Linked DNA regions of Homo sapiens: region 1 is linked to region 2. Evidence: fine-mapped expression QTL. A gene starts in region 2. The other region holds a variant in brackets. All regions are shown on one strand. Distances are from middle to middle. Region 1 overlaps CREB1 (cAMP responsive element binding protein 1). Region 2 holds the start of METTL21A (methyltransferase 21A, HSPA lysine).

Region 1 (12,108 bases), 55 kb after region 2:
ACAGAATCCTGAACTTCTGAAGATTGTTTCCAGAGATTCAGTGCAACTCTTATTTTACAGATGAAAAAACAAAAACAACAACAACAAAAAACAAAACACTTTCCTGAGGCTCAGAGCAGCTGACTTTTACTCAAGGCCTCATAGCAGATCCATGCAGTTAGATACAGAATCCATCTTTTCTAACTCCTGATTTCCTGGTCTTTCCTTCTAACCTATCCTGTTTCTTCTACCCCAAAAGATGTTAAAGGTAGATGCAATATTTTAAAAACTGAAAATAGTTGTTTTTATGCCATGACATTTTGGTCCAATTGGAATAATGGAAGAGTTCATGAAAAATACTATCAATATTGAAGAAATGTTAACTACATTTGAATGGTGGTTTGCAATATGATACTTACTTTTTCTGTGAGTTTATAAAATTTTAGTATTTTGAAGAATTTACCACACCTGTGAATTCTGAATTCCCTTACCTTGAACAACAACTTGGTTGCTGGGCACTAAGATCTGCTGTCCATCAGTGGTCTGTGCATACTGTAGAATGGTAGTACCCGGCTGAGTGGCTGCTGCATTGGTCATGGTTAATGTTTGCAGGCCCTGTACCCCATCGGTACCATTGTTAGCCAGCTGTATTGCTCCTCCCTGGGTAATGGCAACTAAAAGCCAATGGATTTTATTGTTACAAGTTTAATACCATATAAGACTTTTAAAACATTACATCCAATGTAGAATAATTTGTAAAATAATCTAGGAGAAGTTACAGCAAATAACATCACCAAGAAGGGTCTAATATATTCAAGTAACTTGCTCCTCAGGAAACCCATATTCAACTTCTACAATAGAAATGCACTCTATGAACTGCATTCTAATTTATAATAATAATGCCTGTTAACAATTTTTTTAAGTGGAAAAATGTTAAATTCCTTCTGAAGTTATTTGGTTCTGAAGAGGTTCCACTCTGTGATCCTTTCTTTTATTTTAGCATTAACTGCATAATGTATTAATACTTGTCCCACTAGTAAATAAATTTCTGGAGAGTAGGAATTTTCTTATATACTTTCATACACTTAGCACAGTGGCAGCCATGAAATAGGCACCCAATAAATGGTTGTTTTAACATATAACTAATAAAGCAGTTCATCAGTGCATTGTATTCCCTAACTCTTGTAGAAATTCTTTAATGGTATCTAATCCACTCAATGAAACAACTGAAATATCCTATGGAACTTAATTATCAACAGTCTCTCATGGAATTTTAAAATCAGAGCTCAAGATCATCATTTAGAAAAAAAACTTTAACTGTCATTTCTAAATTATTTAATACATATCCAAGCATTCTCATATAGAACCCTTTGTTGTTTATGCCCTAATTAGCCACACCTGTCATTCATTTGTTAAACAATAAATCAGTCAACTTTTGCTCATACTAGTAGATATTTCACTTTATGAAAAACTAAATCACCTTTATGCTACAGTACATAGAAAAATTTAATTTAAAAATTAGATGATTTATTTGGAAGAAGCATTTTTAGATAGGTGGCAATATCCTCTCTAGACAATTCTCCCTGTAGGGGTCAAGCTTTTCAGAAAGAGAAGGACCAAAAATCACAATATCACATATAAAACTACAAAACTGATTTTAACTGAGTAAGAAAAAAGTAAACAATGCAGGAAAGTCAACATGTCTGATTAAGCATGTTACTGTCCATTAGAAGGGAATTAGTTTGGGATCAGTTATCCACCAGCTATGGGAAATAACATCCTGAGACATCTGTACATGGAAAATTGATTACTGCCTCATCAAGAAGTAAGAAGAGTTAATGGCTACAGTGTGATTAGTTTAGCAAAATGACACTTGTGAAAATTAAAATGCTGGCATATACACTGGATCTAGTTTAGCTAATCCCAGAAGTTTTACTTATCTTAGGCAGGGAGAAAAATGAGTAAGAACTATTCTAAGATTAATTTTGCATGATTACTTGAAAGAATCAGAAGGTTAACAGAAACAAATCACAATTTCTCATTTAGAGTTAATGAGTGAATCCTACTGTATTTAACATACCACTTTCTTCTTGGCTACAGAGCAGTGAATTCAAGGTGGGAAGAAGAAAGAAATAGTAAACCATATATGACAAGACTGGGTTGTAGTTTGAGTTCCATCACTGAACAGTTTTTTGTTTTAATTTTTTTCTTTTGAGACAGGGTCTTGTTCTGTCTTCCAGGCTGGAGTGCAGTGGCAAGATCACAGCTCACTGTAGCCTCCAACTGGTGGGCTCAAGTGATCCTCCTGCCTCAGCCTCCCAAGTAGCTAGCACAGGACATCAGGCCCTACTAATTTTCTAAAGACATTTTTTTGTAGAGACAGGGTTTTGCTATGTTGCCCAGGCTGATCTTGAACTCCTGGCCTCAAGCAGTCCTCCCACTTTGGCCTCCCCAAGTGTTGGGATCACAGACGTGAGCCACTGTGCCCAGCCATCACTAAACTGTTATTTGATTCTGTTCTCTCTTCTCTAAAAACAAAAGCATCTGGGTTCTAGCCACTAAGTACAATTGTTGTAAATATCAAATGAGGTCATGTATATGAAAATACTTTGGAAACTGAAGTCTAATCCTACTGAACACAGTTTTTCTCTATAATGTTTATGTATACACTTTATTATTCCAAAAAGATTTGAGATAGCTTTCAATAAAACACAATTCATTAAAACAAAAATAAAAAGACAGAAGTCAAGTAACGGATGTATCCTTAGTTATATAAAACAATTGTAGAAGAAAATCTAGACTAAGAAAAGAATACAATTAAACAGAAAGTTAGCTAAGAATCTGAGTTGCCAGAATAAAGAGGGAAACATCATGAGTCATAGTTTTATTTACTGAAACAAAAAAATTCAAGTTCAAAATGACAGATACACATTTTCTATCTAAGAGCAGAATCACTAATAAGATTTTACTATCTGGGACACTGAACTAATAAGTAACAGATAAATCTAGTAACAGCATGAATTTAATAAAATAACCAATTTAAGGAAGGAGTGGAAATTCATGCCTCCACCTGGAAGGGTACTTGCGGAGGATATGCTTTAATTTGATAATTCCACTCTTTTTTTTTTTTTTGAGATGGAGTCTCGCTGTTGCCCAGGCTGGAATGCAGTGGCGCTATCTCGGCTCACTGCAGGCTCCGCCCTCTGGGTTCACACCATTCTCCTGCCTCAGCCTCCCGAGTAGCTGGGACTACAGGTGCCCGCCACCTCGCTCGGCTAATTTTTTGTATTTTTAGTAGAGACGGGTTTTCACCGTGTTAGCCAGGATGGTCGATAATTCCACTCTTAGGATATTTATGTAGCACTGTTTGAAACAATAGAAATGTCCTAAATGTTCATCAGCAGGAGAATGTTTAAATAAGTGCTGTATTTACACAGTGAAACACAATGCAGCTATTAAACAAAATATATAACTATGTGTGTTTATATATCTATGGTGAATTCTGACAACCATATGTTCATTTTATAAGTTAAGAAATATAAATGTTGCTGTATATGTATTTATTATATTGCTCTTAATGAAAATCAAGAATATAATGTTAAATCAGTTCCATCAAAGCCAAAGCCATGTGTACATATACAGAGAGGACACAGGATAAAAATAATGAACAAAGCTTTAAAAATTTCAAAGTATTAATCTCTCTTTTTTTTTTTTTTTTTTGAGACGGAATCTTGCTCTGCCACCCAGGCTGGAGTGCAGTGGTGTGATCTCAGCTCACTGCCAGCTCCGCCTCCTGGGTTCAAGCAATTCTCCTGTCTCAGCCTCCCGAGTAGCTGGGATTACAGGCGTCCGCCACTATGCCCGGCTAATTTTTGTATTTTTAGTGGAGGCAGGGTTTCACCATGTTGGGCAGGCTGGTCTTGAACTCCTGACCTCATGATCCACCACCTTGGCCTCCCAGCGTGCTGGGATTACAGGCGAGAGCCACGGCGCCTGGCTCAATCTCTTAAAACTAGCAATTTTCAGCTGCTGGAGGAGACGAGTGTACCAAATTAAACATCTATGGGGGTGCTGGTACTTTTCTAACCTTCATTTCCCCTTTTTAGATTCTGATAGGCCTCTTTCCTAAAGAGCATGCTTCCTAGTTCAAGTGAGAATCTCTGTAACAGTGAATCTGTTACTGACAGGAGTATGTTGTATCCCTCAGGTATGCTGAAGTAGAAGAAAAATAAACATCATGTATCAATGTCTTCGAACACATATCTTGAATAACTAAAAGCATCTGGTATGAGGCTTCAACTGATAATACACATACACGTACAGAATTGTAGGTAAAGAGTTGTACTTTATATCTGCCACAAAGATCTTAAGAAGAAAAAAGATGACTAAGCTAATTGAGCACAGTGGATAAAAACCTTAGTCAAAAATGCCTTCCTTCTACTTAGTCTCAAAAGTTTCAGCCTTGGCAGAGTTAAAAAGTTTGCTACTTGAGAACTTGTCTTTAATACAGATGGGAATGCAAATTAGAGTTACGCAAAACAAAGTTGAACTGGAACTAAAAAATAACATGGGGGTCAAACTTTCATGCATATTTCTTAATTTTTAAATTATTTTTATAAATAGGGATGGGGTCTTAAACTCCTGGATGGCTCAAGTGATCCTTCCACTTTGGCTTCCCAAAGTGCTGGGAATACAGGCATGAGCCACTGTGCCTGGCCTCAAACTTTTATGCATATTTCTGATACAGATTCCCTCAGGGATTAGGAAACTATCTCAGTAAAGAAGTTTCAATGTGTACATTTAATTTGAAACTAAGGTGGGTGGGGAAAAGGGTATAAATGGGCAGCACCAGGTTTAATAAACAAATACAAATGAAAAAAATCACTGAATGAATAAAGCACTTTGAGAGGCAAAAAAAAAAAAGGGAAAAAGAGAAAAAAGTACCATTCACACAAATGCTTTTGATCAAACAAAATAAAATTCAAAAGTGTCTTATAACAGATTTTGGTGAAAGATAAGAAGACAGACCTAAGTGCCAGACAGAGACATCATAGAAATGAAAACTTTTAAATAATTTTGTAAGAGCAATTTTTGCTTTATGTGGGCCAAAAAGTATATTACTATCTTTCATATGAAAAGGAATAATTGAATGTGCTGACTCAACCAAGCCATGCTTATCCCCACTTGAAACATTATTAAATACGAAGACATTAAAATGCTACTTTCAGAAGGCAAGACAAACTATTAAAATGAATACCGAGATATATTCAAGGAATGATTTTTTTTAATCTAAAAAACTTATGTTCTCTCAACACATGAGGCCTCAAACCTAGGGTCTCAATTAGTGGTTCAAAAACTTCAGACTTTCCATGCATCTGCACAAAAACAAAAGGACATCTAAAAGGTTTATACACTTGACTAATCCTAACTAAAACTCTCTGAAGAAAAGAAAATACTACCATTACAGACCTTTGCATAGTGAAGAGTAAAGGAAATATAATAATGGCAGCAAAACTGAGAAGACTTGGCACTTGTATTGGTTTCTCTGAAGAGAATGCAACTATTAGCTTTTTCTCCTCACTTTTTTCTCCTCACAATAGAAACAGAAATTGTCTATTACTCACTATACTGTCCACTGCTAGTTTGGTAAATTGGAGTTGGCACCGTTACAGTGGTGATGGCAGGTGCTGAAGTCTCCTCTTCAGACTTCTCTTCTTCAATCCTTGGCACTCCTGGTGCATCAGAAGATAAGTCATTCAAAATTTTCCTACAAAATTAGAAAACTAGAATAATTAAAAATATAAGTACAATTTACTGGCTAAATACAAATATAGTTAAAGATGAGAAAACTCACAGAAAGCTGCTAGTGCTTAGGACAGAAGGTTTTTTTTTTTTTTTTTTTTTTGAGATGGAGTCTTGCTCTGTCGCCAGGCTGGAGTGCAGTGGCGCGATCTTGGTTCACTGCAACCTCCGCCTCCCGGGTTCAAGCAATTCTGCAACAGCCTCCAGAGTAGGTGGGACTAC[G/A]GGCGCCTGCCACCACGCCTGGCTAATTTTTTTGGTATTTTTAGTAGATGGGGTTTCACCATGTTGGCCAGGATGGTCTCGAACTCCTGACCTCATGTGATCCACCCGCCTTGGCCTCCCGAAGTGCTGGGATTACAGGTGTGAGCCACTGCACCCAGCCAGCAGAAGTTTAAAATATATAAATTACATGAATAAACTCTTCATGGGTCAGGGATTGATCTAGATGTCAAAAGGAACCCAAATATGTACAAAAACAAAAAAAAAGATGTATTATCTTTAACCTCAATGTAAGGAAGGGTGCAATTAAGGGTAATAATAAGACTGACTACATTAAAAAAAATCTTTTGCATCTCAAAGAACACATACACAAAGTCGGAAAGTAAAAAGTCAACAATCAACTAAAGGGAAAAAAGATCAAAACCTGATTTTTAAATTCTCACTTCTCAGATTGGGAAACAAAAAAGTGTTAACAAAATCTGTTAGCAAAGCTACAAAAAAAACAAAAACAAAAACAAAAAACACCACACTCTCATACATTGCTGCTGGGAGTATAAAACTGGCACAATCCCGATATAAGGAATTGTTGATATTTAAGGAAATATGGGTGTTCGTGCCTCAATCCCATTTCCAGGAATTCACCCCAATTCCAACAATATTAAAATAAACTCGCTTAAGATTATTCCCATTGGCACTGTTTGTAACTGCAAAATACTGGAGCCATATATCCAAGGTCTAAAATAGAAAAACAAATAAAAAGGAAAAAAAATACTGGAAACAATCTATATGCCCATATAAAGGCAAGTGGTTGAATCAACTATGGTACATCCAAATAATGGATACAGCATATCTTTTGTGTAAGGAAAAAAGGGAAATATGAAAACAGACATGTATCTGCTCATTTGTTCAAGGAAAAAAATCAGGATGGATAAACGAGAGAGTAATGGTTTTAGCTATTTACTGGGGATGGGTAGGAAAGAAATGAAAACGACAGAAGGAATGGGGAGGCACTACTGAGTATACTTTTTTTGTGCAATTCTGACTTTTGGTACAGTGTTAAATGTTTCACTTACTAGAAAAAAAAATAAAGATCAACAAGGATGGGTGGAGAAACTCTAAAATGGAACCCAAAAACAAAGGAACCATACCATATTTCAAATGAATAACATAATCACACTGAAAGGTGGGAAAAAACCCCTAAAAACCCTAACCCAAGTAATTTTTGATATCTTAAATTTGTAACAAACTAGTTATAAACTCTGTCCCTTTATGCTATTGTCAAAAATGACATCTTCATATATCATGTGCTTAGTCACATAAATTTATAGTTATTGTTCTATGCCTTTGTCTTTCCAATCACATAGGAAAAAAAGGAGTTACAAACCAAAACTATAATAATCCTGGCTTTTATATTTACCTGTGTAATTACTTTACTAGTAGTATTTGGTTGGATTTGCTTCAGGATCAAATGTGTTATATACTAACAGGAGATATACTTCAAAGTTAAAATCTAACACTAGCTATACTTAAAATAAATTATGAATATAAATACATATAACATAAACTGGTAATATAAAATTTCTTAGACCTCAAAATCTATTTATTGCTAGTCACTTAGGATTCTTAATTTAATTGTAAGGACAGAGAAAAGGGTTAGTTTAATAGCCAAGCGGGGGGAAAAAACCATCCCTTTGAAAAATAGGAATATATAAAAAATAATTTACACTAACAAGGAAGATAATTATGAGTCTGAAGTTTCTTCAATGCTGAAGTAAACTTATCAAGATTTATGGAACTGCCCTTCCTGAAGATATTTAATGTGGAGCTAATTTTTACATTAAAAAATGGTTTTGGTTCACCTTGGAGGCAAGGCATGGACTAGGCAACATCTATAACTGAACACAAAAATTACAGTAAGCTACTGCTAAAATTAGGGGATGTTAGTAAAGCATCTCCCTGAGACAATTATTAAATTAATAGCTATCTGTTAAGTACCATGGCATAAAAAATGGTTTGCAATGTGTTACTAAGTAGATAAATAACAGAGCCTCAGAGTTGGCTTATAACTAAAAAATGCTATAACCTTATCAACTGTATTCCAAACTTTTAACAGAAAGACAGCCAGCACAGTCTACAGAAACAGAAACAGAAAAAAAAAAAATTAGGACTGGTGAGAGTAACAAGTGCTCTTCTTATTCTGTAGGATAAGCTTCCACTTTATTTGAGACAAATAACTCAAGATGAAGAAAAGTAATCTATAAGGAACTGACGTGAACAACTAACTGGTCTTCTGACATCTCTTTATCTGCAACTACCTAAGACTTCCTCCACATCTTTGATTCTAACTATTAAATTCCATACCTGTAGGAAGGCCTCCTTGAAAGAATTTCCCTTCGCTTTTGGGAATCAGTTACACTATCCACTGACTCCTGTGAATCTTCACTTTCTGCAATAGTTGAAATCTGAAATTAAAGAAAAACTTCATATTGATAATCAAATTTAGTTCCTGTAAAATTTTTATTAAACAAATATAAAAAGTCATATATAAACTTTATACATGCTTCAGTAGAAAAAAATCAGTTCTTATGGGAGACAACCACACCAATCACTTTCCCCTTCCCTTTACTTACCCTATAAACTACGATGAAGTTAGAGAACCTAAAATAGCTGCAGTTTAATTTTTTTTTCAGGACTCCATGTAATCAATCCTGAATGCATCAGTATTACTTATCAGTTTTTTCTTACATCTGTTGGAACAAAACTACCAACTAAAATAAGGTTTCTGATATAAAGGATAAAATGGATGGCTAAATATTTGGTCCTAAGTCTATATAGTGACTATACAAATATTATTATTTAACTGTATAAACACTTATGAATATATTTACAGTTGTACAGTAAGACTGGCGATCCATCATGACATCCCTGACAGTTGTTCCTAGCAAGTTAGGAAAAACTCCTAACATGTTTCAAAGTTAGCATTCTATAATCACTTTTAAGTAAAAATTCAAGGTAAAGAACTATGCTTTTCTGATAAGAATACCTAGACTGAAAAGTAATGAAGATAAGTGAATAAAAAATTTACATGGGATATTAATGATAGAAACTAGAATTTACAGATGCCTATGTGCCAGGTGTTATGCTAATGCATTTACATATACTACATTACTTAATACTCACAGTAATGTAGGCGCCAGATGGGTACTATACTATTATATCCATTCCATAGATGGAAGAACTAAGGCACAAAGAAGTAACTCACCCGAGTCACAAAGCTAGGAAGTAGTGGAGCCACTGTCATTAACCTCCATTTTAGACATCCTTACCAGCATCAAAATCCTGGTGGTTCCAGTCTCAAACCAGACTGTTATAGTCTCAAACCAGGTTTGTCAGAAGCAGCAACCAGTGGCATTTTCACACCTTTTCTAGACTAGAAGAGTTCACTTACCTAAGTATGCTTGATTGTCAAATTTACACTGCCCAAGTTTCTCTAATCAGCAGAAACGTTATGCTCTTTCCTGAACTAGGGGCACATTATGCGGTCAGAGTAAGAATTATACTTAACCAAGACAAAAGGGTCTATGTAGGTCAGCTCCACGTCAAAACGTATGGCAATGGCAGTAAGAAAACATATTCAGAAGTACTTGAGAAATTCCAAGCGTACTCTATGTGTGGTCTGAGCCTAACAGTTCTCCCAAGTGGGCATTCATTTTACAGGGCTTTGTGATATGCATGCTCATTTAAAATGAAACCAGGTAAAGTTAGTAACTTGTAGTAAAATATATTTATAATGAAGTAATTTGCCCCATCCAAACACTTTAAAGTCTAAGTACAATCTGAAAGACCTAAAAATCAATAGGCAACATATAATGAATTCACAAATGACAGATAAAAAGATGAGTAATGCTGAATTTAGTCTGTGATTCTCAGCAGAATAATAATGCTGTAATTACTGCCAAAGAAGCACACAGAAAAGTTTCACGTTAATCAGTAGCTGCTGTAACTAGCCCACACACAAGAGTCTCTGCACAAACTTTCTCACATACAGAAGATCAGGAGCTATGAAAAGGCCTGAGGAAAGGATCAGAAATTCAAGGAATAACAAGACTGAACTCAAAGTTGATAGTACTGTGACAAGTGTTGTTTCCCTTCATTAATACGCCACTCAGAATTCACTTAGCTCCTCTGTGGCTCTTTCTGTGTCCACTGCTTGACTCTCATATGCCCCATCCTTACATGCTTCTCTTAAGGACATATAGTGATTAGGGAACACCCCCCTTCCAAGTTGGAACTCACTAAAACAACAACATTAAAACATGCCATATAAACTACCCACAGGATAGTTTTGAAATGAAACAAATTAATGTTGTTTTTTAATCTGTGTCCTTTTTTTTTCTAACTCTGGATCTATGGCCCTTAATGAAAAAAAAAAAAAAGGTTGCCTTTCTCTGACCTGTAAGATTTTGTCAATTCACACAGAAGGAATTAACTTATCACTATTTAGTGCTTGCAACTTTGTAAATGTAAAGAGAATTCAGACCACTGAAATAAACACAACACTTCCTCTTTGGGAATACCATCTGAAGAGAAGTAAGCCATGAAGCTAATTCCTATGGAGTCCCTGATCTATCACTTAATCAATAATAAAAATACTGCCACAGAATATACCAAGCCAAGAATGAAGTTTAATGTAAACTATGGACTCTGGGTAATTATGATGTGTTAATGTAGGGTCATCAAATTATAACATAAATGTACCGTTCTGGGGGAGGATGTTAAGAACAGGGGAAGCTATCCATGGAGTTGGGGAGGGAGTATACAGGTAATCTCTGTAGCTTCCTCTCAATTTTGCTGTGAACCTAAAACTGATGTTAAAAAAAAAAAAACATACTGGACCCACATAACTGAGATCAATAAAAATCATGTCAAAAATCTATTTTTATAAATAACAGAATAAAAACATCATATGAAAAATTATATCCCAATTATAAACATCACGTATCATCATCACATTCCAATGATGGAACCCCTTCCTTTTATTCTCATCTCCTATCACTTATTAACTTCTTTCTGAATTCCTTAAATAGGTCTTTAATTTTGGCCACTTGTAAGTCAAGAAATTTTCAAAAAGCTAAACTACCACTTGTAGATATAAAGTTTTAGGTCTGTATTTCTCAACTTTGGTTTATTTAAAACCCATACTACCTGTTTATATTGGAAAGGTGGAGGACCCCGTTTCGATTATTTGAAATTTTAAAATAAACTATAAAGTAACTAGAACCAATCAAAACAATGGTAATATTCGATGTTTCCTAAACCTATATATGGTCCTTTGGAAACTTAAGTACTATCCCTCGGTAGAGTTGAGACTCATGGTTTGGATATATATTTTTTTTTTAAGATTTTTTTTTTTTAAGAGACAGGATCTCACTCACTCACCGAGGCTGGAGTGCAGTGGTGCGATCACAGCCCACTGCAGCCTCAAACTCATGGGCTCAAGGGATCCTCCAGACTCAACCTCCTGAGTTAGCTGGGATTGCAGGCATGCACTACCACTCCCAGCTAATTTTTAATTTTTTTGTAGAGACAGGGTCTTGCTATGTTGCCCAGGCTGGTCTTGAACTCCTGGCTTTAAGCAATCCTCCTGCCTGGGCTGGGATTATAGGCCACTGCACCTGGCCTTAGATACAGTGTTTTACTCATTGGATCAAGAAGCTTACTGAAAGTCTAGATCAATGATCTTCCAACTCTTTTGATCTGCATGTATCTCTTATAAATAAGAAAAATTTTACACAGGCATACATTTTTCTTATTTCTAAATTTTAAGTATTCGTATTATAAAACAAGAGTTCTTAAAGAGATATGATAAGCATAAATATTAAAAATTTATATATTTCTTAAAGATAAATAATATTATTTTTCAGGATAGTGAGAATGACATAATATGCTTCATTAAAAATCATTTAACACTTTTATTTTTTGAGACAGAGTCTCACTCTGTCACTCAGGCTGGAGTACAGCAGCATGATTTTGGTTCACCGCAACCTCCGTCTCCAGGGTTCAAGTGATTCTCGTGCCTTAGCCTCCCGAGTAGCTGGGACTATAGGT
Region 2 (12,108 bases):
TGACCTCGTGATCCGCCCGCCTCAGCCTCCCAAAGTGCTGGGATTACAGGCGTGAGCCACCGCGCCTGGCCTCAATTTCTTTAAATTTTTTGAAGAACACTTTTAATACTACCTATATTATAACATTGAATAGGTCTGAGGAACTTACAGAATGTTTATATTCTGTCTACATCACTTCCTAAAAACAAAAAACATCCTTTTCACTGGGACTCTGGCTGTATGTATGTCACAGGCACTCCAGCGAGCTTAATCAAGAAAGGAAAATGTCTTGTCTGGTTACCCTGGGTTCCCATGGGACCTGAGAACCCAGGTGCAGCCAGGAAGGGCTCAGGACAAGAGAGGCATCAGGAAAACGGCAGCTGGCAGCTCAGCCCCAAGTTTCTGCTGGTGACTGCTCTCTGTAGAATGGTTTCTCCATCTATACCGCACAGTGAAGATGGCCCCATACAGGCATGGCTTTATATCTCTCCTTTGCTCAAGGGACCGGCCCAGACTGAATGTATTAGGATTGTTTTTCTTCTTCAGGATATGGAAAAAAAAAAAAAAAGCTGCTCAAATGACAGCTTAAGCTAATTAGGGAATTTAATGGCTCAAATAACTGAAAATTCCAGGACAGCTGGATCCAGGTGGTCAAACATCAACAGGAGGCAGCCTCTCTCTCCACCAGCGCCTTCACTGGCCACATTTGCTGCTAGTTTTGTTCTCTTGGGACCAGATGGCCAATAGGACCTCTAAATTTCTATCCTTCCCCAACAGGCTGGTTCTCTGAGAGTCTCAAGTCTCAGAATGGGTTCTGGTTAGGCCCAGCTTTGGTTACATGTTCACATCTCACCTACCTGTGGCCAGGTGGAAGGACTGTGTTCATATTGGCCAGGCCTGGGGCATGTGCCTGATCATGTAGTAAGGGCTGAGGATAGACCAGTCCAAACACATAACAGTATAAGCAAATGCTCTATAAAATGTGTTTGTTGGGCGCAATTCTAAGTAGATAAGTTAACTCATTTTAATCTCAGGTTATCTTTGTTGTTTACTCATACAATAATCACATTATCCCTATTTTATAGATGAGGACATTGAGACACAGGTTAATGCATTTCACCCAAGCCCTCACAGCTAATAAATTGCAGAGCTGAGTTGGTGCAGAACTTGCACTCCAGAAGCTGGGCTCCTGACCATCAGCAGAAGAGAACTGCTGCTACCAGGAAAATGAGAAATAGATGTTGGGCAGGCAGTAACAACAGATGTCTGATAGTCACTCTGCATTCTTTCTGCAGAGAGAATTATGTACCCAGCGTGGGGTTGGGTATCCACCCTGGCCTAAAAAGGGAACATGCCTGGGGGAACATAGGGATCAAGCTGTGCCAAGGTAGTAGCAAGGTGACTGCTTCTACTATGACCTTGGACATGGACTAGTTCCAGGAGACAGGAGGGACAAAGGCCTAAGTGTCCTTCTACCATTATTTTGCAGTCAGGCATCATAGGATTGGGAAAAGGACATTTCAATCATTCAGATAAAAGTAAAAAGCACTATTTTTTTTTTTTTTGAGACAGAGTTTCACTCGTTGCCCAGGCTGGAGTGCAATGGCGTGATCTTGGCTCACTGCAACCTCTGCCTACTGGGTTCAAGAGATTCTCCTGCCTCAGCCTCCCGAGTAGCTGGGATTACAGGCATGCGCCATCATGCCAGACTAATTTTGTATTTTTGGTAGAGATGGGGTTTCTCCATGTTGGTCAGGCTGGTCTCGAACTCCTGACCTCAGGTGATCCGTCCGCCTCGGCCTCCTAAAGTGCTAGGATTACAGGCGTGAGCCACCTCGCCCAGCTAAAGCACTATTTTATACACTGTTAACACTACGATTAAACTGCACTTCGGAATTACAAACAATGCGGGAAGTAAATCTATCTTTTTGCATATTCCTAACAAGACTGTCAGGAGAGGCCAGGCTCAGTGGCTCCCGCCTGTAATCCCAGCACTTTGGGAGGCTGAAGAAGGAGGTGGGGGGATCACTTGAGGCTAGGAGTTCAAGTCCAGCCTGGGCATCATGTCAAGACTCTATGTCAAGACTCTCTCTATACAAAAAATAAAATTAGCTGGGTGTGGTGGCACACACCTGTAGTCCCAGCTACTTAGGAGGCTGAGGTGGGAGGATGCCTGAACCCAAGAGGTCCAGGCTGCAGTGAGCCATGATTGCACCACTGCACTCCAGCCTGGGTGACAGAGTGAGAAGACTCTGTGTCAAAAAAAAAAAAAAAAAAAAAGACTGTCAGAATTTCTTTTTTTTTTTTTTTGAGACAGGGTCTTGCTGTGTCACCCAGGATACAGTGCAGTGGTGTGACTTCAGGACTCACTGAAGCCTCCACCTCTGGGCTCACATGATCCTCCCACCTCAACCTCCCACGTAGCTGGGACTATAGGTGTGCACCACCATGCTCGGCTATTTTTTTTTTTAAATTTTTTTTTTTTTGAGACAGAGTCTCGCTCTGTCACCCAGGCTGGAGTGCAGTGGTGCAATCTCAGCTCACTGCAAGCTCTGCCTCCTGGGTTCACGCCATTCTTCTGCCTCAGCCTCCTGAGTAGCTGGGACTACAGGTGTCCACCACCATGCCCGGCTAATTTTTAGTATTTTTAGTAGACATGGGGTTTCACCGTGTTAGCCAGGATGGTCTCGATCTTCTGACCTTGTAATCCACCCGCCTCAGCCTCCCAAAGTGCTGGGATTACAGGTGTGAGCCACTGCACCTGGCCTTTAAAAAAATTTTTTTAGACATGGGGTCTTACTATGTTGGCCAGGCTGATCTTGAACTCCTGGGCTCAAGTGATCCTCCCACCCTGGCCTCCCAAAGTGTTAGGATTACAGGCGTGAGCCACCACACTTGGCCGACTACTCCAAACAATATGTAGTCTGCCACACACCAACTTGTTTTTAGGATTAAAAATGTATTTTCAAATATTCAGTGGACCACTGGCTTATTTTGATAAAAACAGAGCTCTGCTTAATGGCTACACTGCTATACGAGTTGCATATGTTCCTCAATATTCCTTTTGGTGCTTCCTGAGCCATCTGATACAGCTTAGAACATTGGGAGGACAAGACGGTTGAGAAAAAGTAAATGACACCTTCCTAGAAAACTCATAATATAATGAGGCACATGTTCCATGTTAGAGTGCTGGAGAGGTGGGGAAGGTTTTGCTTTGTTTTTTGAGGTCATATGCTTGATTTCAGCAGAAAGGATGGAGAATAGGGAGAAAAAACAGAAGGGGCCCAAGGCTCCATGCCAGGCTTCAGGGATGAGCAGCCTGGGATCTAGCGAGGTTTAGTAATTTCCCAAAGTCATCCCATTTAAAGAGTCAGAGGAATAATTTAAATTTTCCATATTTGTCTGGCCCCAAAGCCCATACATGTTCTTTCTTGTGCCCATTGCTGGTTCTCCCTGCAAAAAGGGACAGAGAGAAAATAAAGGCAAGAAAGGGAGGTCTTCGATAAAGGGAAAGCTGAGAGGCAGAAACACCAAGTGCAGGAGGTAAGAGAGAAAGGAAATACTAAGAGAGAAAGCGAGAGGACCAAAAAAGAAAACGAAAAAGGAGGTAAAAGTCCCTCACTGGTGGTCTTCCAAGTTCCCTGAGGTTACCCTCGAAGCCACAGGCCCCACCTTCCGATGGAAGATTAATCTGGAGGCCGGGGACGCCGCCTACAGGACGGAAGAGGCCAGGAGAGAGAGGTTCAGGCCCCCGCCAGGCTCCCACCGCGGGAAGCAGGCTCCCGGGGGCGGCCCCGGGAGCTCTTAAAAATATCAGCGCTTGCCGGGCGCGGTGGCTCATGCCTGTGATCCCAGCACTTTGCGAGGCCGAGGCGGGTGGATCACCTTTAGTCATGAGTTCGAGACCAGTCTGGCCAACGTGGTGAAACCCCCGTCTCTACTAAAAATACAAAAATTAGCCAGTCGTGGTGGTGGGCCCCTTAATCTAAGCTACTTGGAGGCTGAGGCAGGAGAATCCCTTGAACCTGGGAGGCGGAGGTTGCAGTGAGCCGAGATCATGCCATTGCACTCCACCCTGGGTGACAAGAGCGAAACTCTGAATAATAATAATAAAAAAAAAAAATCAGCGCTCGGGCGGTAGGGGTGGGGGAGGTGGCAGTGGTTCACACCTGTAATCCCGCATTTTGGGAGGCTGAGATGAGCGGATCACCGGAGATCAGGAGTTCAAGGCCAGCCTGGCCAACATGGTGAAGCCCCGTCTCTACTAAAAACACAAAAAAAGCCGGGTGTGGCGGCGGGCGCCTGTAATTCCAGCTACTTTGGAGGCTGAGGCAGGAGAACTGCTTGAACCCGGGAGGTGGAGGCTGCAGTGAGCCGAGATCGCGCCACTGCACTCCAGCCTGGCGACAGAGCAAGACTCCGTCTCAAACAAACAAACAAAATCCCACAAAAATTAGCTGGCGTGCTGGCGCAGGCCTGTAATCCTAGCTACACGGGAGAATGAGGCAGGAGAATCGCTTGAACCCGGAAGGCGGAGACTGCAGTGAGCCGAGTTCGCGCCCTTGCACTCCAGCCTGGGCGACAGAGAGAGACTCCGTCTCAAAACAAAAACAAAAACAAAAACAAAAGCAAAAAACCAAACAAAAAAATCAGCGCTCGGGCCCCCTCCCATGGCCAGCTCTTGGGGCGGGGGACTGGTAAGGGAGGTTTACCCCAGCTGGTTCTAACGTGCAGCCGCGCTGAGAGCGCAGCGGGCGGTGTGGGGCGAGGGGCCCCAGGAGGAAAAAGAAGCCTGCCCCGGGAGGATGCCGGTCCCCGCACGGTCCCACTCAATGGACCCACTCCAGCCGCGCGCTCTGCCAGGGCCTGCGGCCAGGGTACCAGGCCCTCGGCACCTTCCACGTCCAGCGTGGGTCCTCACGGGCAGGTGCGTCTTGGCATCGGGAGGAGGGAGACTGGGGCACTGGAGTCTGCAGCGCCGCCTGGGGCCGGGGCTGGAGCCGAGCGCACGCCCAGAGCTCCGCGCTTCCGACTGCAGCCAGAGCCCGCCGACCCCCGCCCCACTTTAAAAACTTGGACTCGGGCGCCACGTGTTCACTTCCCCCACTGTGCTTTAGTTGAAAAGGGTTTTGTGACTTTTCCACTCGATTGCCGCCAAGCGGGCTATTACGCCGCTTCTGACCCCACCGTGGAGACGCGGGGACTAGAGTGACCATGCCTTCTTCGGAGCGAGCTGTCTCCATCATCCGCTAACGCGCCACCTTTAAAAAACAGGCACAACGCGCAAGCGACAAAGTCAGAGGCAGAGAGCGGCGGAGCACATGATAGAAAAGGTCGAGAGGCACATTCAGCGCCAGGTGGGTGGCTTTTCTCTCCCGCTAGGAGAGCCCAGGGCACCCCATGCTCTCCCTGTGCACCCGCGGCAGTTCGGCACCCCGATCTCACTCTTGCTCCCGCCCCCACAGCGCCTCCCTCGGCGGCGGGGGAAACGGATTAAGTCGTCCGTGTACCCTGGGGACGCACGAGGGAAAGCCCCGGTCCCCCCTCCCGCAACGTCACTCCTCCACCGCGCCACGGCCCGGCCCCGCCCTCGCCGTGAGCTCCGGGGGCACCTGCCGGAGGCTGGGTGCCGGGAGACCGGAAATGCGTGGCTCCGGGCCGGGGCCGCCCGCCCCCGCGTCGCGGGCTCTTTAAGGCCGGCGGTTTTCGCAGCCAGCCCGGGGCGGGGAAAGCGGAGCGCGCGCTCCACGCGGGACCGCCTCCCGGGCCGTAAGTACCGGCGTGGCGGCGCCTCAGCCCGGCCTGGGCGAGCCCTGGGTGCTCCGCCGGGCAGCTCACGGCGCCCCGTATGGCCTGGGGATCCTAAGAGGCCCTGTGACCCCCCTCGCCTGGTCTCCCTCTCACCCCTGGAGGGTTGCCGCAGCTCCGGGGCCCCCGGGCAGGAAGGGCGCACTGGTCGTCCCGGGAGAGGGGTGAGTGGGGGGCAGCTATAGGGGGAGTTCGGGGAGGCCTCCGAGTCCCCGCTGTCCCCGCGAGCCGCTTGGAGGCCCCCAGTGTCGCTCACTTCCAGGGTCGGGGAGACGGAACTGCGGCGACCATGTATTTCTGGTTTATCAAACCGCTAACACCCAGTCTAAGGGCAGGTTCTGTCCCATTGTTATCACTATCGAAGCAGCCGATGGAGGAGGGGAGGTGGGTAGCGAAACCGTAGCGAAAGAACCCGGGCCGCCCGGCTGGCTGCAGCTGCAGTCCGGGCGCCCGGGTCTGGGTTGGAAGCGCTGCTTTCCGCGCTGCTCTGGGGCCCTGGGCGATCACCGCCGCTTCCGCCGCTTGTGTAGTTCTGAATTCACGGAGTGGTAGCAGTGCAGTGTATAGGGTATTCTGCGGAAGTTGGAATGTTCTGGGCTTTTTTTTTCTTCTTCCCCAAACACATCCGTTGACACAAATTCCGAGCCAAATCTCACTCAGATTCGGAAGAGCCATGCAAAAGAAATTGGACAAAGGCTTCCTCCACCTGTTTCTTTTTTTCTTTTGAACTTGTAAACGACCTTAAAAGCATTTGGAGTTAGTTAAGAACAGATAATGTATCTTTTGGCCAGAGCGTCACCCAGGATTCTTTTGCACGGCAGGTCTGAGCAGAGGGCGGGGTGCAGGCGGAATGGCCCTCGTGCCCTATGAGGAGACCACGGAATTTGGGTTGCAGAAATTCCACAAGCCTCTTGCAACTTTTTCCTTTGCAAACCACACGATCCAGATCCGGCAGGACTGGAGACACCTGGGAGTCGCAGCGGTGGTTTGGGATGCGGTAAGTAAGCCCTGGGGGACCTCTGAAAACGTTCACACTTGCAAGACTGGCTTTTATTTTTTATTTTTTTTAGAACAGCTTTATTGAGATATAATTCACATAGCATACACTTTACCTATTTAAAGTGCACAATTCAGTGCGGTTTTAAAAATACAGTATATTCACAGAGTAGTGCAACTATTACCGCTTCAATTTTAAAAGTTTTACTATCACTGCCACTCTCAAACCCGTATCCCTTAGTCACTCCTCTTGTCCCTCCACATAGATTACATTTTAAAGGTGTAAATGAAAGCTGAGGAAAGTTAATGACTTGTCGGAGAGGATAGGAAGGAAAGCCCCCAACTGCTTTGGACACGAGTTAGTCTTTTTTTCTTTTGAGACATAGTCTCGTTCTGTTGCCCAGGCTGGAGTGCAGTGGTGCGATCCTGGCTCAATGCAGCCTCCGCTTCCTGGGTTCAAGTGATTCTCCCACCTCAGCCTCTGGAGTAACTGGGGCTACAGGTGCACGCCACCACACCTGGTTAATTTTTGTATTTTTTGGTAGAGATGGGGTTTCGACATGTTGGCCAGGCTGATCTGGAACTCCTGACCTCAAGTGATCCACCTGCCTCAGCCTCCCAAAGTGCTGGGATTACAGGCGTGAGCCACAGCGCCCAGCCGAGTTAGTCTCTTTATTTCACAGAGTATTGTAAAGTGGCAGAGCCCAAAATGGAGATTATGTGTTTTCTTTAAGTTTTCCATAGTTGTAATTGTTAAAAAATTGTAACTGCTTTTTAACTTCTTCCTCTCCCTGCCCTGTTCTGACTTGAGCCCTCAGCATCTAGCCCCACACCTAGGACTCAGTGGGAACTCAATTAATGTTGAATGCATGATTGGCATAAATACAGTTTGACAGTTTTAACATTGTTAGGGATGTTAAACACGTAGGAATAAAAATCTCAATATATTCTAATGTAGTAATACCACTTCTAGGAATCCAGTCCAGGTAACTACATGGAAGTTACTCTGGTAATAATAAAGATATAGGCCTGGTGTGGTGGCTCACACCTGTAATCCCAGCAGTTTGGGAGGCCGAGGTGGGCAGATCACTTGAAGTCAAGAGTTCGAAACCAGCCTAGCCAACATGGCGAAACTCCATCTCTACTGAAAATACAAAAATTAGCCGTGGTGGCGCACACCTGTAGTCCTAGCTACTCGGAAGGCTGAGGCAGGAGAATCGCTTGAACCTGGGAGGCAGAGGTTGCAGGGAGCTGGGATTGCACCACTGCACTACATCCTGGGTGACAGAGTGAGACTACATCTCAAAAAAAAAAAAAAGATAAATAATAACGAGGAATGGGAAGACTCGTAAATGCTCACCAAGAAGAGGAATTGCCAATTATACTCACAGTATGCGGCTGTGAGAAATAAATTATAGTAACAAGTTATGTTAGCTTTATACACTTCTTTCTGTAGGGTCATAAACAAATGTTGAAACCACACATCAAGTATCCAAAACTTTGGCCAAAACTTACCTTCTGATGCCCAAAACGTATGGTGAGGGCCCCTGTGGGGCGATGACCATCAGTGACGCAGTTCAGAGACCCTTGGGCAATGTGTTGCTTTTTCCCTATGGGTGAAGTTGTGGCTTTGCTGACCTGAGTTTGGTTTAGGAACTGGGCATTCCCTTAAACAAAATCATAGAAATTGTTCATGTCAGTTCTTGCAGAATAGTTGTGTAAACTTCAAGCATAAAAGTGCTGTGACACAGTAAAAAGTTAAGCTTTCCAGGCTGGGTGTGATAGCTCACGCCTATAATCCTAGCACTTTGGGAAGCTGACGCAGGAGCTCAGGAGTTCAAGACCAGCTTGGCCAACATGGCAAAACCCCATCTCTACCAAAAAAACTACAAAAATTAGCTGGGTGTGGTGGTGCACGCCTGTGTCCCAGTTACTGGGGGTGCTGAGGTGGGAGAATCGCTTGAGCTTGGGAGGTGGAGGTTGCAGTGAGCTGAGATTGTGCCACTGCACTCCAGCCTGGGTGACAGATGGACTGAGACTCCATCTCAAAAAAAAAAAAAAAAAAAAATTAAGCTTTCCAGATCCAGCAGGACCCCATTTAGTGTGGGCATCATCTCTGGGCACTGCTGTGGGACCCTGTGCTTGCTCTAAGGGGGAGGTTACCTTGCTGCACCAGCTAAGTTCCTGTGTGTGTTGTTAAGCTGGGAATTGAACCTCGAAGTGGGAGAGGGGTGGGTGTAGCTGACCTGAAACCCTGCAGCTACTCAAGCACATGTTGACCTTAATCGTCATCACACTGTGTTTTCATTCAGGCCATCGTTCTTTCCACATACCTGGAGATGGGAGCTGTGGAGCTCAGGGGCCGCTCTGCCGTGGAGCTGGGTGCTGGCACGGGGCTGGTGGGCATAGTGGCTGCCCTGCTGGGTGAGTGTCATGCATTGACTCCTTAGTGAGCAGAACTCATTGAGAGGTGCATTTGCTGTTTTCTTAGCGCAAAACCCTTCGTGGGTTTTCCCCTTACTGGGTTATTATCTTTTGCTTATACTTATGAGTTGTGGGCCAACTGCTGGGGTTCTTAACTCCAGTGAGGCTAACGGGCTAATTTCTCTCTCTCTAATTTCTGTCTCTCTCTCTCACACACACACACACTCTGTTATTTATACTTCCCATGGGAGATTGCTCTGCCCCCTTCAATTCTGTGATGCCAATAATACGATCTTAAAGTGAGTTGATTCAAGGAGAATAATCTTACCCATGTATAGAGTTTTTTTCACATTCAGGGGCTTTCTTTCCCATACACTATCTGATTTAACCCTGTGAGGGAGATAGAGCAGATAGTCTTTTCTTCATTGCTGAGGAAACTTTGCTGGTTTTTCTCTTGTAGGGAGGGCTAGCCCCCACTATAGTTTGTACTGACTTCTTATTTTTAAAATTGTATGAACAGTATACAGTTCTGACTTGATATCAAAGTTTGTCATTTTAAAATTTGGTATACACACATTAATTGAGGCTTGGAGCTAGAGCATTTTTAGGCTTCATTGTTATTTTTATTATTGACTATTGACTCATTTCTATAACTTCTGACATATATAGTTCAAGCTATCTAATCATAAGGGTAGACCAGCTTTCAAGATACAATGTATAATGTTTATCACTTCCATATTGTCACCTGGTGCTCTTGTTAAAATGCAGATTCTGATTTGGCAGGGCTGGACCAGGGCCTGGGAACCTGCATTTCTAACAAGCAGTAGAAATGTCAGTAGTGATGCCGACACTGCTGGTTCTCAGACTACACTTGGGTAGGAAGGATCCAGGATTCCAGAGTATTCTAAACCCATCGCATTGTCTACAGATATTTGAGGACCAGCTAAAGCCCCTCTTTTGTCCTGCCTGTTTTCCAGAAACCCAATACTTTTTCACTATTTCTTTTTCTGCTTAGCTGCTGCTTTCCAAAATTCGACAGGGAGCATGGGCAGGGGTGGTGGTTGAAAGTCTGTGTAAATTGACAGAGGTTTCCGTCCGTCTTCAACCACAGCACTTAAGTCATCGATGAAGCCCTTGCTGGTACACTGCCTTTTATTCTTTTCAGGTGAGCCTTAGAACATTCCCGTGTATGTTAGGTATTATTTTTAATTTTCATTTTTCAAACAAAGCTGGGATTCTGGGAGATGAAGCTACTTTCTGAAGTCCTGATCACTGGAGATCTGGGACTCAAAACCAGGCTTGTTAGACACAGTTAGTTGTTTTATTTTATTTTATTTTATTTTATTTTATTTATTTATTTTTTGAGATGGAGTCTCACTCTGTTGCCCAGGCTGGAGTGCAGTGGCATGATCTCGGCTCACTGCAACCTCCGCCTCCCGGGTTCAAGCAATTCTCCTGCCTTAGTTTCCCTAGTAGCTGGGACTACAGGCATGTGCCACCACGCCCAGCTAATTTTTTATTTTTGGTAGAGATGGGGTTTTACCATGTTGGCCAGGCTGGTCTCGAACTCCTGACCTCAGGTGATCTGCCCACCTTGGCCTCCCAAAGTGCTGGGATTACAGGAGTGAGCCACCGTGCCTGGCCTGTTTTATTTTTTTCTGTAACACCAACTTCTCTCTCTGCTGATATAAGAGTTACTATAAGGGGAAATGAGGTTTCTTCTGTTTCCTCCTGAGAACCAGGGCTTCATGCAAAACTTTCTTGGCTGGTGTATAGACATGTTAGTGTAGCAAAGTGCATAGGCTTAGTTATACTTGGTTTTGACATTTCTTTTCATTCTTACTAGTCGTGTGACCTTGGGCAAGTTGCTTAACCTTTAAACATTGATTACCCCATCTGTACATTGTGCATAATAGTAATATTTACTCCACAGTGAGGAACCAATGAGATTGCGTGTATAACATCTGCTGGCTCACTGAGTGACACAAAGGAAGTGCTCCACGAGTGTTGATTACTCTCTGAGTAACTGCTTTTTCTGATCTAGCAATCTGGTTCTCTGGGGTTGGGAAAGTCAGAATAAGATATTTCAGATACCACCAGAGTTACCATTAGCATTTTGGTATGTTTTGTTTCTCTCCATCTGTATTTTTAATCATAGTTGTAATTATGATTATATATATGTAAATATATATGTCTGCGTATGTGTGTTTTGTGTATCCGTATACACACACCTATACAAATGATGTTTTCACATTATGTCATAAGCATTTCTCTGCTACTGTATGATTTTCATACTCACTATTTGTAGTCACTACAAAGTGTTAGGTTGGAGAAGTTTTGCTGTTGGAGCCTGAGGGTAAGAAAATGTTAGTCTCTTCAAAATAGAATCAGTGAGTACTAGAATAGGTAGTGATTTTGAAATGTCAGGAAGAGATTAATTATTATTCTTTTTAAAGTATATTCTCTTTTTGTAACCTTAGTCATTTATTCCTGAATTTGGGGAGAACCCACCAGAAGCCTGGCGGTCCACTGTGGATGGGGCAATAAACAGGCTGGCAGGTGTCTCCGGAAGCTTACGTTCTGAGTTTAGTGGGTAGAGGTAAAGAAAGAAGATTAAAAAAAAAAAAAAAAAGCGGTGCTATGTAGATATTAATATAGGGTGATGAGACTTTCCTGTTAAAAACCAGCTGCTAATTCCTGAGTAGTTCCTGTGTTCTGAGGACTGTGCATTACACCCTTTCATTCTCACAGTCACCCTGCATGGTAAGTAGGCCTTACCTACTTATAGCGCCCTTCCAGTGGTGAAAGGGAGGCTTCTTGGAGGGTAAGTAACTTGCCTGAGGTCACAAAGCTAATGGATTGTGCTTAGAATTTGAATCCAATCTGACTCTCAAATCCTCG

The links. PIP is the estimated chance that this variant, and not a neighbour inherited with it, causes the effect.
Region 1: its variant is fine-mapped to the expression of METTL21A in whole blood (INTERVAL, PIP 0.98).

Annotation. Positions count from the first base shown.
Region 1 is chr2:207,563,817-207,575,924 of GRCh38, reverse strand. It overlaps CREB1 (cAMP responsive element binding protein 1), which reads right to left. Exons shown (of 8, transcript NM_004379.5): 4 at 8,362-8,462; 5 at 5,604-5,746; 6 at 471-653. Among named protein-coding and RNA genes, the nearest start is that of CREB1, 40 kb to the right of the region's middle. The variant G/A (reference allele first, on the strand shown) is at 6,004.
Region 2 is chr2:207,618,905-207,631,012 of GRCh38, reverse strand. It overlaps METTL21A (methyltransferase 21A, HSPA lysine), which reads left to right and starts at 5,619. Exons shown (of 4, transcript NM_001127395.5): 1 at 5,619-5,951; 2 at 6,609-6,784; 3 at 9,096-9,207. The coding sequence starts at 6,638. RefSeq lists enhancers at 3,746-4,448, 4,449-5,153, 11,111-11,200 and a silencer at 5,424-6,023.